2 separate regions of the Homo sapiens genome follow, and region 2 is linked to region 1. A link means that fine-mapping ties the variant in region 1 to the expression of a gene that starts in the linked region. Tissue or cell type: whole blood. Region 1 holds a variant in brackets; the other region holds the start of a gene. All regions are shown on one strand. Distances are between the middles of the regions.

The links. PIP is the estimated chance that this variant, and not a neighbour inherited with it, causes the effect.
Region 2: it holds the start of RND1, and the variant in region 1 is fine-mapped to the expression of RND1 in whole blood (TOPMed, PIP above 0.99).

The regions. Positions count from the first base shown.
Region 1 is chr12:48,816,288-48,818,965 of GRCh38, forward strand. CACNB3 (calcium voltage-gated channel auxiliary subunit beta 3) reads left to right here and starts at 2,209. Exons shown (of 13, transcript NM_000725.4): 1 at 2,209-2,678. The coding sequence starts at 2,643. LOC101927241 (a long non-coding RNA gene) reads right to left here and starts at 645. Exons shown (of 3, transcript XR_245978.4): 1 at 473-645. RefSeq lists a silencer at 2,007-2,476. The variant A/C (reference allele first, on the strand shown) is at 1,183.
Region 2 is chr12:48,864,471-48,867,148 of GRCh38, forward strand. RND1 (Rho family GTPase 1) reads right to left here and starts at 1,400. Exons shown (of 5, transcript NM_014470.4): 1 at 1,178-1,400; 2 at 313-400. The coding sequence starts at 1,297. RefSeq lists enhancers at 1,214-1,333, 1,594-1,723.

The DNA.
Region 1 (2,678 bases):
TTATGTCTTGCTTCTATGACTTGGGTACCTGCCAGCTGCCAGTCTAACAACTCTCTCCTAGAAAGAATCAGCAGGAGGAGCCTCTCCCCTGATCCTTTATTGCCCTCAGCTCTCTCCCTTTATGCCCAGCCATGAAAAAGAAAAGAGGTTAGGGCTACATGGACACTGACAGGCACATGTCCTGTCACAGGACAAGAAGTCACCAAGTTGGTATTAGAACTAGAGTAGGCAGGTGTGGGTGAGAAATGAAAGGAACATTGGGTAGCAACCCAGAGATATGAGAAGAAGGAGGGAAGCTCTGAAGCTACTGCAGGACCCAGGGGATGGGCCCAGGTATGAGGAGCTTGAACCCATCTCCTGGGGATGGTTGGCATGGCAACACATGCCTCAGGAGCAGACTTAGACAACCTTGTCGCAGGAGATTACAAGGAGTGTGAGGAAGGAGTGCTGCCGATGGCAGATCCGCTGTTACCTACAGCCCCAGGACCTTCTGTGGGTGGAGAGAGTCCCAAAAGGAGAGGCCAGGAGAGTGGATGCAGGGATGGGAAGAGAAACAGCTGCCTCCACCACTGCTTTCTTCACTAGAGCCATCTCCCAGGAGAAGAGCACCTTGAGGGTCTTACTCTTTGACACCTCTCCAGGCCCCTGAAAGAAGGAATTGAAGAGAAAGGATGAAAGAGGGGGATACAAGGAATACTGCGTAACTGGGTGAGGGCACAAAAGTGGGCAGTGTCTGGGAACTTCCAATACAGAAGAATCCAGTATATGACCAAACCCCAGTTGGTGCTGGACTCAGGAGAGGAGACAGTCCCTTCAGCCACAGGGGCTGCAACAAAGTTGTTTGTCAAACCCAGCATGAGGAAGGTGCTGGGCAGGGCTGCTCTGGGCCACCCACAGTAGACAGACTAAAGATGTCAGTCTGAAGATGCAGCTCTTCTTTGTCTTGCCAAGATAACACCGATAAGTGACCCAGGTGGGAAGCCACTTGGTTTGGGTGGGCTTTCTCTCTCCCATGCACAGTGCTTTCTACCATAGATCTTACTAAGCCATGTCAGAGTTTTGGATTTCTGATTCTCCTCAAGCCAAGGAGGGATGAGCAGATTGCTGAACTCCCGGGTGTGAGAAATTGGGAAGGAAAAGGACTGAGCTCAGGGCCAAGAGCATGGGCACCAGGAGGCCTCC[A/C]AGTGTAACCCCTGTCTACGCACATCCTCCTCGTGGGGCACAAAGGTAGGCAGTCAAAAATCAAAGAAGGAATTTTGCTCAGGAGATGAAAAAAGGAAAGAGCTCAAATGGGTGGATCTTTGGGGAAAGTTTCCTCAAGATAAGGGCTGCGGCTCTCTTACCCCAAATCTCAATGCTCCTGTAAAGGAGACTGAGTGGTGCAGAGTGGTACAAGCCCTTCTGCTAAGGGGAGAATCTGGCCTTACCCTAGTGACTCCGAGGAGACTGGCCCTTTCCTCTCCCAACCCGAGTGTAGCCAGGATCCCACCCACAACTATCCCCCTACCTCCACCCTCTGGCTTCTTTCCCCTTCCCTTTAGGCTCACCTAAAACAGCCCCTTTCTGCCCCAGTTCCCACGGATGCCTTGGCACTGTCTGGCACAATCCTTGGCAGGGAAGTGGGGAAGGGAACCCCCATCCTGGCAGGACTAAGACAAAATCTATCCGTGCAACAGGTGTGGGGAGGCCTACCCAGCTCACGGAAAGTTCCCCCCTTCTCAAGGGTTGGGCAACACCGCCTTTGCCGCAGCGTCCCCGTACTGAGGGGGCCGGGCACCTGTTGGGGCAGGAGCTGCCGTCCTGTCATTAGCCTGGGGGCACCAAGCCCATTCCTCCCCGGGACCACTGCGGGGTTTGCTTTCGGAGCCTCCGGGACGCACGGGCCCAGACCCGCCCTGCTGTCGCCTGGGACCCCTCCCCCGTCTGCCGCTCGTTCCCGCGCCTCTTCTGTCTCCCACGGTCTCCCCATTTTCCTGTCCTCTCCGTCCTCCCTCTGCCTCTCTCTCTCCGGTTTCCTCGACACCTGCGCCCTCTCCAGTCTCCGCCCGGGTCGCGTCTCCCTCGCGGTCTCAGCGCCCCCTCCCTCCCCCGCCGCAGCCCTTTGTTTCCCGGCGGAGTAGTTCCTGGGTTGCCGAGCGTCTCTGTCTCCGCATCTCTCCTCGCCCCGCCTCCTCCCTGCCTGGATCCGCCCTGCCCGCAGCCTCTCCTCCCCTTCCTCCCCGCCGCCACGGCCCCGTAGGTGCTCGGGGACCCACCTTCCACCTAGCACGGGTTCGTTCCCCTCTCCCGGCCTGGCCCGGGCTCCCCGGTGGCCGCCGCCCCCTCGCCGCCCCCGCCTTCTCCCGGGGAGGGGGTCAGGTGGGCGGGCACTATTGTTGTAGGAGCCGGCGCCAGATTCCTCAGCCGCGCTCGGGGTGGGACCGGCTGGGTTTGGGGGGGTGGGGTGGGGGGAGCGGTGATCTGAGCTCCGAGCAGCTGGTCTTCGCGGCTCGCTCCCTCCTTCGCGCTCTCTCGCTCCCTGCCGCCGCCCGCAGGGCTGCGGGGCTCGGTGGCATCTCCCGGGCGCGGCCCGCAGTCCTTGCCCCTGCCTCCGGGCCGCTCCCGCCCCCGGCGCCGCTCGCTCCCCCGACCCGGACTCCCCCATGTATGACGACTCCTACGTGCCCGGGTTTGAGGAC
Region 2 (2,678 bases), 48 kb after region 1:
AATGGAAATGGAGAAGTCCTGTTTTACTGCCCACCCCCAGGACTATTCATGGGTCCCTTCACCTCACCATCCCAGCCCTCTAAAGGGTGGAACCAGACCCAGGGAAGAGAGTGGCTCCTGGGGTTCACCCACTCTGCACCCTTGGACCATGCAACTGAGTCCACCAACTGTCAGCCCTCCCCACAACTAATGAGTCTTCAGATCCTCTTTTTTCACTTCTCCCCACCAAAGGGGAAAACAATTTCTAAAAGACAGCAGCTACACAGCAGACCAGTAGGGGTGGGAAAGGGGTATTTGGAGCAGAATTCTTACCTGAGGTATCCCAGAGACTAAGCTCCACCCTCTGTTCCTCTGTCTCCAAACAGGCTGTGTAATTTTCGAACACGGTGGGCACATAGGTCTGTGAAAAGAGAGGAAACATTCACCCCATGCACCCCTACCCTCAGATCCCCTGGTTAGTGCTGGCTACACACGCACTCACCAGAGAGACAGTAAAGTCACAGGAGACAAGAAACCAGAGGAGATGCCTGGGGCAGGAGGGAAGGGACTGTGGAGGACCAGGCACTTTGCTCTGCAGCAGTGAGAAATGTGAATGACACCCCCCCACACCACCACACCAGGGGTAAGCCCCCCATATCCTAGGCGATCAGGGACACACACACACACAGATTCCTCCCATCCCCAGATTTGTGTTTCCCAATTTGAGAGAGCCACAGGCCAAAGCCAATCCTAGCTCATCTCCTCTCAAACCCCTCCCGGCCAGGTGAACAGAGGGGCTGCAGAAGCCTGCCTGAAGGCACAGGCATAGAGCCTTTGAGGAGCAGGTGAGCGGATAGGCAGGGATTACGTCAAGAAGAAACCCCAGACTTTCAAATGCCTCCAGTGCCCTCACCTGAGAGCAGACTCCAGGGACGCAGGAAGGTGGAGGGGATCTGATGGGTCCTCTGGGTGAAGAGGTGAGGAGGAGCCAGCGGGGCGGCAGAAGTGGAACAGGTCTCAGGGGAAGCTAAGGCAGGGCAGTCCTCCAGCCAAAAAGCAGCTGAGGATGGTAAAGCCTCAGAAAGCGGCTGAGGATGGGCTGGGGCTGGGGGAGCCACGTCTCCTGAGCAGGTGGAAATCTACCCCAAGGCGGGCAGGCAGGGAGAAAAGCCGGCCAGCGGGCGGGCGGGCAGCTCACCTCTGGATAGCAATCCTTCGCTAACACTTGCAACATCGCGGTCTTCCCACACTGCACGTCCCCGACCAGAACGAGCTTACATCTGGCCACGACTGGCTGGGGGGCCCGTCTCTCCTTCATGGTTGCAGTGTCCGCGGGACTTGAACTTCGATTCAGAAGGGAGGGTTGCGCCAGGTGCGTCTCAGCACGCCAATCAAGCCAGATTCCCTGCCTCCCTCCAACTGAGGAGGAGGCCGGCACAGCCGCCTTTTATTTTTCTGGCTGAGCCAATCACAAGAGGAGGCGGACTCTGTTACGCCCAATCCCTGAGGTGGGATTCCCTCCAGCAGCCAATGGATCTGAGGATCTGAGTCAGCGCCCCCTTCCTCCCTTCTCTTTCTCTTAAAGCTGCACCGTTGTTTCCCCCTGAAAGGGGATTCCCAGGTTGTTTTGCATTTGTATTAGGAAGTGGAAAGGGTACTGGAAGCAAAATGAAATGATCTGGAGTGTCTACCAATAAGTGTCAGAAAAACAAACTAGCTATGGAAGCAGGAAGTGAGGTCAGGCTGGAGTTGCAGGGACTGTCCCGGGTGGGTTACAAAAGCAGGACCTGCTTAGACTATAGACAGGTGTGTGTGTGTGTGTGTGTTTTGGAGGAGTAGGGGATGGGGGAGGTGGCCCAGAACTTCTCTGACATTTTTTTTCTTTTTTTTCCTTACATCTTTTGTTTTAAATAGAGACAGGGGTCTCACCATGTTATCCAGGCTGGTCTTGAACTTCTGGGCTCAAGCAATCCGCCTGTCTCAGCCTCCCAAAGTGCTGGGACTACAGACATGAGCCACAGCGCCTGGCCTGATGTCTGACTTTTTTGTTTTTTCTAATTCCCATCCAAACCAGTTCTTACTTCCCTTTATTTCCCCTCCCAATATCAGCTCCTGCTGTACCTCTTTTATTTATTTATTTATTTATTTATTTATTTATTTATTTATTTATTTATTTATTTTGAGATGGAGTTTCGCTCTTGTTGCCCAGGCTGGAGTGCAATGGCACGATCTCAGCTCACTGCAACCTCCATCTCCCGGATTCAAGCGATTCTCCTGCCTCAGCCTCCCGAGTAGCTGGGATTACAGGCATGCACCACCATGCCCAGCTAATGTTGTATTTTTAGTAGAGACGGGGTTTCTCCATGTTGGTCAGGCTGGTCTCGAACTCCCGACCTCAGGCGATCCGCCCGCCTTGGCCTCCCAAAGTGCTGGGATTATAGGCGTCAGCCACCGTGCCCGGCCTGTGCCCCTTTTAAAGCCTTCTCTTCTTCAAGAATCACCTTCACCACCAAAGACAGAGAGAGAGAAAGAGAAAGAGAAAACTTTCTAGAGTCATCCATAAAAAAAACACACAGCACCTGACCCAGTGATGGGCAGAGAGAAATGAGGGACTCTGGCAAGTGGGGGTGGGAGAGAGGAAGAAGACAAAGCAAACACAGTCACTGTTTGGCCAGACAGCCTCTCACCCATGCCTAGCA